Linked DNA regions of Homo sapiens: region 1 is linked to region 2. The links come from fine-mapping of genetic effects on gene expression. A gene starts in region 2. The other region holds a variant in brackets. All regions are shown on one strand. Distances are between the middles of the regions.

Region 1 (5,380 bases), 69 kb after region 2:
CAGAAAGGGCTGCCATAAGGAGAGAATTAAGTGAGTCATTCCACAGACCCTAGCAGGGGCATGGAGGGCATCAGACAGCACAGGGCACTTGTGGCCCTGGTGCCAGTGGCTTTGGCATGAATGGTGGTGTCTGTGCTCTGGTGGTGTCCAGGTAGCTGCACAGGAGTATGTGATCTCTGGAATGAAACTCAGCACAGGAATTCAGGGCAGAACTAGAGAGAAATGATGGTTACTGGTGTTACGTACCAGAGGATTGTGCTATGTGCCCATGTGGAGTGCTCCTTGGGGTGCCCTAGAACCAGCAGGGAAGAAAAGGCAGGGGCTGGGAGGGTTCATAGCAGCAAATGGGGCTGAACCAGATAAATACTCTCTTTTTTAAAAATCCTAGGCTAGTACAGCAAGTGACAGTAACAGTTACAAGTGTTAATCCTCTCATTTGCCTCTGCCAGTGTTAGAATATCATAGAGGTGAATTTGAGTTCTTCCCAAGCCATATCCCCTGAGGTGGACAGCAAAGCCTCCAAAGCTCCATCGCTGAGTTTATTAATCCTGGTTCAATAGGGCAGGGAGATCCTCCAAGTCATTCAACAAGCAATTCCCTTACTGTCAGATACCACTTGTCTATAAACACAGCCCATGCAGTTGATGCTATTGGCACAACCACCTAAACTTGAGTGGGATCCAGAGAAATGGCTTCTGGCCTGTGAAGGAAAAAGCAAAAGAAAACAAACACTTGTTTAACAATGATTTAATTCTCTTCCTAATAGGAAAGTCTCGCTCATAAGTCTAGGACTTAAGCTGTCAGACAAGGAGAGGTAAGTCTATTCACTTCAGATAGGTGGTTATTTCTACCTTCCACCTAAAGAATGTGGATGGAAATGTCAGGGGAGGAAAAGAAGCCAGGGATTGCAGGTTGGATTAGATCACTCTGAAAACCATTTTCTGGGTTTATGGGTGATCATGCATTGTGGTTTTTATTTATAGGCAAGTGGTAGCTTACCAAGAGTGACGCTAGGCACATTGCATACTCTGCCTACTTTTCCTTCCCTGACTTTTCCATCTAAACTCACAGAGGCAGATAAGAGGATTAACACTTCTAACTGCTACTGTCACCTGCTATACCAGCCCAGGATTTTTTTAAAAAGAGAGAGAGCATTTCTCTGGTTCCAATTACTCATGATTAGGGGCCAGACTCTGTAAAATGAGATGTTAACTTGAAAAGATAGCTACATTGCAAATGACTCTTGTTCAGTAGAAAGGCAAAAGAATTCTGTCAAATAGAAAACATAACCCCAAAGGGTCTGATCTTGCTGCTGTGTAGGACATTAAACAGTTTTGCCTAGCTTTGCAAACCCACTTCTACATCCTTACTTTCAATGATCATAGAAAACAGCCTCTTGTATTCTCCTTTGATTTGGATTTGTCTTCCTACTGGTTCCCTCACTAATAAGTTAGATCAATCTTCGACTATATCTGTATGAGAATCATGTTTTTAACATTGAATAGCAACCCCCTTCTCCAAACTTCTCTGTGGGCTTCTCTGTTTATAATTATCCATCTTATTCTCTATGCATCATAATGAATTGGACTCATCTGGCTTTCATTTCTTAGCTGGGAGATTAGACAAAGTCTCTTTGTTTTATTTTTTTAAAAAAGAAAGTTCCTTTCGTGTCTACTTTAAGCCTATTCCCTTCAGCAAGTTGTTTAGTGACCTTTTGGGCCCAGCATTGTGCTAGTTACTCCATAAATCATAGAAGAAAGGTCATAGCCCCTGTCCTTAAGTATCTTACAGACCAAATGGAGAGATGCATCATGTCATTTCTCCATAATTTTTTAATAATAGTCATCTGTTTTGAGACATTGCCATGGCATGTGCAGACCAGTTAGCTACCTTGAGCGCTAAGGCTAATCTGATTTTACTCCAGGATCTAGAAGAAAAAAAAAGTAGCAAGAAAGATGACTGTAGCTGTAACAAGTTTCAGCCTCTGTTGGCTCCCACCCAAACTAATCGGCCTGGGAGATTGATTTCCCTTCCAGCCAGCATCTTGTTCAGCATTTCTGCTCATCATGCTTCTGGCATTGCTTCCTCAGAGGACTGTCCATCATTCCTAAATGATCTCTGGTCCTCTTGATAAAACAGCAGACAGATGCTGGGGATACAGAATTGAAATTCAAAAATATACCTGATTTGCAGACTCATTCCCTCCTCCTTGTTACCCTGGCTTCTCTCACCAGAGAGAACCATCAAGCAGTCTAGCAGTGAATTGGGAAGTTTGTGTGTGTGTGTGTGGGTGGGGGGTGTGTTGAGGGTGGGAGTGGGAGTAAAAGGGAGAAGATTCCTGGGATGAGTTTGAGGGGAGAAAGCTTCTAAGCAGCGATTCTCTAAACTCTCTGAATTCTTATAGGCCCATCTTTGAGGGATATTTTGGAGAATGATGTTGATTTTACTGTCTCTTCAAGG[T/C]CAGAAACAAAGGCCAGTTTGTTTAGTGTTAATACAAAGATAGAAGGAGGAAAGAGCAGGCTTTAGTGCCCACATGTTCATTTGGATACAAGGCTAAGAACTTCGGGGTGGGGGTGAACTGGGGAGGGGATGACCATACTTGTGCTAAAGTACTTTATAAATGAAACCCAGCTGAGGCTCTCCCAGGCCCTTCAGATCCAGATAAGGTTTGTTTGAACTGTCTGGACTGTGGAAAGCTACAGCCCTCTCCCATATTTCTGTGAATTATTAAGGGATCTATATGATCTTATTAGCTCTGGCTCCAGCTTTCTGCCCCAGCTGAGTTCTTGATCCCTGCCCTATTGCTTGTGGCTGTTCTTTATTTTCACTCTGGCTTTAACCCAAACATGAAAGAACTTGGCCCTCTTTCCTTGCTTTCCACAAAATAACCATTCACACATGGAAATGAAGGAGATTTCTATGCAGCAACATGAGCTATTTTAAATGGCACAGCAGATATTCCTCTTCTTAAAAGTTCTTTGGCTACCCTGCCTTCTTGCCCTGCCATCCCCCAAATCTTCTTGTTCTTTTGTGCAAAGGCAGTGTGTTCTAACAGGAGCATGAAGGTTGCCTGCTAGAGTTCCTATCCTAGTCTAACGCTTACTCGCTGTATACCTTAGGTAAGTCACTTCAACTCTCCATGCCTCATTCTTCTCATCTGTAAAATGGATTTAATAGCCCACCTATCTCATAAAGTAGTTGTGAGAATAAAAGGAGATAGATATTGCCAATACGCTCATTAAAAGATGCTTGCCACCATTAGTTAACAGGGAAATAGAAATCAAAATCACGATGAGATACCACCACCACGAAGATGGCCAGAATAAAAAATTCAGATAACAACAAGCGTTGGTGAGAATGTGAAGAAATCAGAACCCTTATAGATGGCTGATGGAAATGTAAAATGGTGCAGCTGCTTTGAAAAACAGTTTGGCAAGTTCTCAAATAGTTCAACATAGAGTTACTATAGAACTCAGCGATCCACTCTTAGTTGTATACCAAAGAGAAATGAAAACAACGTCCACACAAAAACTTGTGCCTGAACGTTTATAGCAGCATTATTTATTATAGCCAAAAGGTGGAAACAACCCAACGTCCATCAACTGACAAATGGATACATGAAATGTGTTAAATTCATACAGTGGAATATGTTCAACTACAAAAAAGACCAAAGTGCCAACATAAGCTATAATAACATGGAAGAATCCTGAAAGCATTGTGCTATGTAAAAGAAGCCAGTTGTAACAGATCACATACTATAGCATTCTATTCATGTGAAAAAGAAAGAGAGAAACCTACAGAAAGTAGGTGAGCGGTTGCTCAGGACTGAGGGGTGGGGTGTGGGGAAGAGGAGGGTAGTAGCTAAGGGACATGGGGTTTCTTTTTGAGGTGATGAAAATGTTCTAAAATTAACTGTGGTATTGTTTGTACATATCTGCGAATACTCTGAAAGCCATTGATCGTACCCTTTATGTGGGTACATTGTATGGTATGTGAATTATATCTTAACAAACTGTTTTTTTAAAAAAAAGGAAATGTATATTTATATTTATAACAGTGCCTAGCACACAGAAAAGCTCAGGGACCTGAGAGGAAACAGATGGCACATTGATGTGAGTTATTAAGGAGAGATTAATGAAGTATCTATTCACAGAGGTGTGGGCAGGGTCAGGGGAAATGAACAAGAGATGCTGGAGTGTCCCAGGGCAAGGGGAGGAATCCAGAGGCTGGGCTGTAGTAGAGAGGGTGGCCCAGCAGGAGCTGTGGCTTTCATAGAGACAGCAGCCACCACCCACCTGCAGCCCAGCAGGGAGACCCTGAGAACCAAGGCCTCCACATGATCAGACATCATTTGCTGGGGCTTCTCTTGGCTGGACCCGTCCGAGAGCTCGAAGAGCCATTGAGGAGCCCACAGATGTCTCCTGGAGCAGAAGCTGTTATTATTATGTGCACCAGCTTAGCCTTCGTTTGTTTTGTCACATCTTAACAGCCCCACCTTAGTGCCAATCTTCTACGGCCATGCTTTTCCCACCAATTGGTCCAATAAGGTAGGTTCTTAACTAAGAGGTTTGCTTACTAAGAGGTTTGGGTACTTTTCTATCGGGGGAACTCACCCCCAATATTTCAACGTAGGTTCTTTCTATTTTCTCCAAGTGTCAGCTGGTCTGAGAAATAGAAAGAGTACAAAGAGAGGAATTTTACAGCTGGGCCGCTGGGGGTGACATCACATATCGGTAGGTCCATGATGCCCACCTGAGCCACAAAACCAACAGGTTTTTATTGAGGACTTTAAAAGGGGAGGGGGTGTATGAACAGGGAGTAGGTCACAAAGATCACATGCTTCAAAGGGCAAAAAGGAGAACAAAGATCACATGCTTCTGAGGCCAATAAAGATCACGAGGCAAAGGGCAAAGCAAAGATCACGAGGCACAGACAAAATAAAAAACTCCTGATAAGGGTCTATGTTCAGCTGTGCACATATTGTCTTGATAAACATCTTAAACAACAGAAAACAGGGCTCGAGAGCAGAGAACTGGTCTGACCTCAGATTTACCAGGGAGCAGTTTTTTCCCCCATCCTAATAAGCCTGAGTACTGCAGGAGACCAGGGCGTATTTCAGTCCTTATCTCAACCGCATAAGACAGACACTCCCAGAGCAGCTGTTTATAGACCTCCCACCAGGAATGCATTCCTTCCCCAGGGAATTAATTATTAATATTCCTTGCTGGGAAAATAATTCAGCAATATCTTCCCTACTTGCACATCCATTTATAGGGTCTCTGCAAGAAGAAAAATATGGCTGTATTCTGCCTGACCCTGCAGGCAGTCAGACCTTATGGTTGCCTTCCCTTGTTCCCTACAATTGCTGTTATTCTGTTCA
Region 2 (5,380 bases):
TTGCCAGATCACTGGGCCAACAGTAAGGATGTGTAACTATTGTCAATATTTCAAAATGCCTTTCAAAAATTGTAACTTTGCCTAATATAGCCTAACTTCTTTACTGCTGACTGGAATTATGTTAGCTCCATGTGGTAACTCTATCATCTTATATTTGTCTCTTTTTTTGATTAATAGTTACACATCTGACTGATAAAAGGAGGAAATGAATGATTACTTAGTAGAAATAATTTTGTGTTATAAAATAGGTTTACACAGAGAAGAAAATGAAAACAATCCTTAGTACTTAAAAGTCTAGACTCAAGGGCTAAAACACTGGGCCATAGCTAATAAGAGTATGCTTAACAGATATAAACGATCTGTTCAGTTCAAAACATTGGTTAGCTAAGCAAGGGAGTAGTCAAGCTAAAAGAGACTGTGGTTTTAGTTGATTACAGCCTCGCTCTGTGCCAACATGAAGCTCCAAAAAAACCTATTCTAATGTTAAGCTATATTAATAGGATTACACATAAGTGAAGGAGTGGTATAACAGTTTTGATGTATGCTATTCAACAGTATAACTGGAATGAAATGGCCCACTACTATATTCCAAATTTTAAAACATACAACTACAGATCATCCAGAGGAGGGAAGTGGATATTTTATCTAGAAAACACTCTAGAGCTGTCTTCAAATGGCAGAAGGGATATCATATATAGAGAGAATAGTGGGCTTTTAATTTATTGCTACAGAAAGCAAAACTAGGATGGGTAGACAGACGTTACTGAATGGCAGATATTCGGCCAAATACAAAGACCTTATGAATATAAGAATTACTGCCAAAAAACAGTGTTAGACCCATCATCATTGAATGTTTTTATACAAAGGAAAGATGATCCATCTCTTAGCATTCACACTACACTGTAATTGCATGTTTAAAATTATCTGTCTCTCCGAATAGAACATGAACTCTTTGAGAGAAGGGTTATAGTCTTACTTATCTTTTTGGCCCCATGGAATCTAGCAATGAACATTGTATACAGCTATTGTACAAAAAAAAAAAAGGTCTACTGAATTAATAGGTGAATGAAGAAACTGAATGTTTTAAGAAACACTTTACTGAAAAGATGAGACGCCCTTTTGGGCCCCTAAATTTTTAAGATGTCCTTAGTACAGAGTCTCATGCAGAACTCATTCTACTTCATAACACAGCCTAGGAAGGGTGTGCATAATGAATCTATTTTACTATGTGATAAGGAGCACAGTTAGGCTAATTCGAACTGCCATCTTTATCTGAAGTGCTAATATTAATTACAGTTTCTTTGCCAAACTAGAAAAGATATAATTCCTGATCTTTGTATTATGAAAACTTAAGCAAATGCTTCAGTATGAAAATATTTATGAGAGTATCTCAAACACAGAAGAATCTCTAGAATGTGAGGATTTAAAAAATCTTATTCTTCAAACATGTTAAGCAGTAGGCAGAGTAAAATGCCATCAGGTGACATGGAAAATGAATCAGTAACACTTAACTGCCAGTAGAAAGAAAGGAAGAACTAAGAAAAAACGGAAAAAACTGAAAAGATTTTAAGAAATTACAAGTTATAGCATCATATCCGAATGGCATCTGCCTGAAGGATTTTCCTCATGCTCTGCCTAAACCTTTCTACTTTCACGTGGTGTGGTAGTGTGGTAGTGTGGTAGAGTTTCACGGCTTCACAAGAAACTCTACCACAAACTAGTTGGGAAAATAAAGTACACAACATAAATCAGTGGGTTTGGTTTCTTGATTTTTAACCTTTGGTAAAAGGACAGTGAGGGAAACAAATGTTGAAAGTACTGCTGCAGATAACAGGAACATCATAGATTATAGGTAGATCTTATTCCCCACCATTTTAACTCAAGCAGACATTTGAAACTGTCTGAATGTGTCTTGCATACAATAGGTACTCCCTCTCTTAAATAAATAAGCTACATGTAAACACACAGCTAACTCTACTTTGGAGTCCACATGATCCGACAAAAAGAAGTCCCCAGAGATGCATACTACCAGTGATTGATCACTTAGAAGGGAAACGCTTTAAAAAGTTTTACTTAGGAACACACTTTCAATGTAGAGAAATAATGATATAGCTATAGGTACCTTGCACAGCTGCACAGATGAATATACACACACAGGGAAAATTTACAAATTACTTTCACTGTTTGAGTTAATCTAAGAGACAGGGCCTGGAAGATGTAATCTTTCACATAAATATCCTAGACGTGTGAAATTAATTCTCACAATCTCTTCCTTAAAAACAAGGCAAAATATAGACACTTGGTCCCAGTTACATGTTTCTGGAACAAGAGAAAAATACACTTTAGTGTCAACTACCTTATCTAGGAACTTAATTTTTATTAAGCTGTTTTTCGAAATATGAGCATTGTGGCACTATAACACTTCATAGACTGGTATTTGCAGGATTCTAAGAATGTGTGCTTGTTGTAAAGACGTTATTTACTTCTTTTCATGGAGAAAAACAGTTTTGAGTGTTGGCGGGGAACAAAACCACTTGAGGAGGAAATTAACCTAACCCCAAATTTCCTGGACCCCCTACAACAGCAAACAGAAGGGGAACGGGCAGAGAGTGTAACCCAGCATCAGCCCGAGCGGGCACAGGGAAGGGTTAGGAATGGGACAAAAAACTGGACTCTCAGTTTGGCAGGAAGGTGGGTATTGCGGAAGGATGGTTTGCCGCGGCCGGGGAAAGAAAAGAAAGGGCAGCCTGAGCCCCCCGTGGCCCCTCGCTCCTCCCAGCCCGTCCCGTGGGGTCTGCAGGGCCTCACCCCGACCTCCACTCCGCGCGGCCGGCAGGAGGCGGCGGCCCGGACGCTGTACCTGCCCGCCAGCCCGCTTTGCCCCGCGTGCGGCCGCCGGGAGGCCGGCAAAACCACGAAGGCCGGGGCGAGCGAGCCAGTCGGGCCCGGCGTCCCAGCGGCGCCGCTCCGCCCACCCGCCTCCCGAGACGCGGCCAGGACCCCCGCGCGTCTTCAGCCGGCTCCAGACCACAGGAGGCGGCCCCGTCAGCGCCTCGGCCTGCCGGCGCACCTCCGAGCCCCCCGCCAGCTGGGTGGTCCCGGTCCTCGCTCCCCGCTGTCAGCCTCCACTTACCTTCAATCGCCATGATGCGCTCGCCATGGACCGCACCAACTGGATGGCGGGGGCAGCAGACGCGAGGGCTGGCGGAGGACGCGCTGAGTCCGCCAGCGAGAGGGGCGGGGCCCGGCCCGGAGTCGCCCGGCTGTGCGGCCGCGAGGGGCGCCGCGGGCGGGGCGAGGGAGGGGCCCCGAGCGCCGCGAGTGCGGGCCGCGGAAGAAATGGAACCTTCCCGGGGCCGCCGCTGGCACGTGACGCCACCCCGCCCCCACCCCAACCTACCCCACCCCACCCCACCGCCCCACCGCGCCTCGCGCCTCGATTCGAAACAGGTGCCCGGCCCGGAGAGCCACGGGCCCGCGCCCGAGACCCGCCCGAAGCGCGCCGAGCTCGTGTGGGGGCCCAAGCCCAAGCTTCCTGGCGCCGGGCGCCCTCCCGTCCGGTACTTGGAGCAAACGGTGTCCATGAAGGAGGCGAGTGGCAAATGATGTGGTCAGGACCATGGACAGGTCTCCTTGGTTGAAAAGGATTCCCACCCACTGACTCTCAGATTTGGTAATAGTAAGTCTGTTTTGGTTTCGTTTGGTTTTATTTTGTTTTGTTTTGCCCGAATCAGCCACATACTCGTCTCAGATCTCCGCTGTGGAGAAACAGCTAGTTGGCAAAAAGCAAAAAGGAGAGAGGAATCCTGAGCACAGCAGTGGTCTCTCTCTCTCTCTCTCTCTCTCTCTCTCACACACACACACACACACACACTCACTTCACCCCTTAGCCTCGCTCTTGATAAGCCTTGCTGCCACACAGAGCTTGGCTTACCTCTTGGAACTCTGAGTTGGAATTTGTCTACACATTGCAAACGCACATTTGAAGCCACACAAAAGTCAGGGTCAGACGGACGTTTTGACAAAGGACCTGGAAAGCATGTCACACGCAGGTTTTTAAAAATTTGTAAACCTGTGACCATTGTGAACAGTCCCAGGCCAACCCTGAGCACAACAACAATTGGCCACTTAGTTTTTACTTAAGATACTTGAACCGCTCAACCATTTACCCAACTCTCAACTTCATTTAGTAATTTGAGAACCTGGACAATCAACGGCATAAACAACATTGAGAAATAGGGAGTTTAGTGATTCTCTCTTGTGGAGGAAATGCTAATTCCTAGAGCAAAATAGCTATATTAGGGACTGAAACAAAGAAGAAAATATTTTACACTTATGTAAGTAAGGTTGGACTGTAAATCTAGAGCAGAAACTGTCTTCCATTGCTTTTATATAACCTCTCCCTCAGTCGCATTTTATGCTCAATAGACATTCATCCTTTACCATTTTCTTTAGTTCAGTGAGTATCTGTGAAGCCGGCACTGTGCTGAAAACTGGCTACAAGCAAGAATTGTTATTGAAGGATCAAAGAAAATACTGTTTTACTCAGGAAACATTAAAATGCCTATACTTTAGGAAAGCTCCATGAGAGAGTTTATGATGGACATCTAGAGGATTCGGGTAAAATGTTTAATGACATTTTCCCCAGGCAGCCTCCCTTAAAACAGTCTTGAACTCCAAGACATTGATCTGAACTTGACACCACAGTTGTAAGTTGTGGTTTCTGGCTAGTTCTGAGTAACCCAATTGTTCAAACTTTTAAAGAATTTCATATTGAAAGCCCGAAAAATGTATTCATCCTTTCCTCACCAATTACATAGTTACTAAGTAAATAACCAGATTATGTGAGTTTCCATAACCTAGATTAACATCGCTACTATTTGTCCAGGAGACTTATTTGTCCAGGAGACTCATGTGGATGAACTGGGGAAGAAGGAAGATAGTTCCTAGAAGGAGGTTGTTGGACAGAAAGAACTTAACTTATGCCTAGTGTTCCATTATTGGAACGCTAAGCACGCGGGAGTTGTTTACATCCTGCTGCTCAAGGTCATCGCCAAGGTCTGATTGCAAAAATTCTAAAAATTGCAACCTCAGGGATAAATGAGTTAAGTAGTAACTACAAAGGTACTGTACTGTCTAGACATCCACCTCTTGTCTACCTTCTAACTCTTTTGCAAGCACTTGCCTTTCATCGTACTTCCCTGCAGTTCCCTTACAGCAGAGCTATCCAAAAGAATTGTCCGCAACTATTAAAACACTCTGTATTTGTGCTGTCCAATACAGTGGCCCGTAGCCACCTGTGACTATTGAGCACTTTAAACGTAGGGAGTGCAACTGAGGAACTGAATTTTTAGCTTTATTTAATTTTATTCAGTTTAAA

Alleles and levels. Alleles are on the strand shown, and positions count from the first base shown. SD is a standard deviation of normalised expression in the study named.
With allele T in place of C in region 1, the expression in tibial nerve of the gene that starts at base 3,194 in region 2 is lower (large effect, 0.88 SD a copy in GTEx).

The links. PIP is the estimated chance that this variant, and not a neighbour inherited with it, causes the effect.
Region 1: its variant is the best candidate, but not a certain one, in a credible set for the expression of SYT14 in tibial nerve (GTEx, PIP 0.67).

What each region holds. Positions count from the first base shown.
Region 1 is chr1:209,866,871-209,872,250 of GRCh38, reverse strand. No RefSeq gene overlaps it. Among named protein-coding and RNA genes, the nearest start is that of UTP25, 42 kb to the right of the region's middle. The variant T/C (reference allele first, on the strand shown) is at 2,461.
Region 2 is chr1:209,936,031-209,941,410 of GRCh38, reverse strand. SYT14 (synaptotagmin 14) reads right to left here and starts at 3,194. Exons shown (of 9, transcript NM_001146262.4): 1 at 3,134-3,194. The coding sequence starts at 3,146. RefSeq lists a silencer at 3,453-3,747.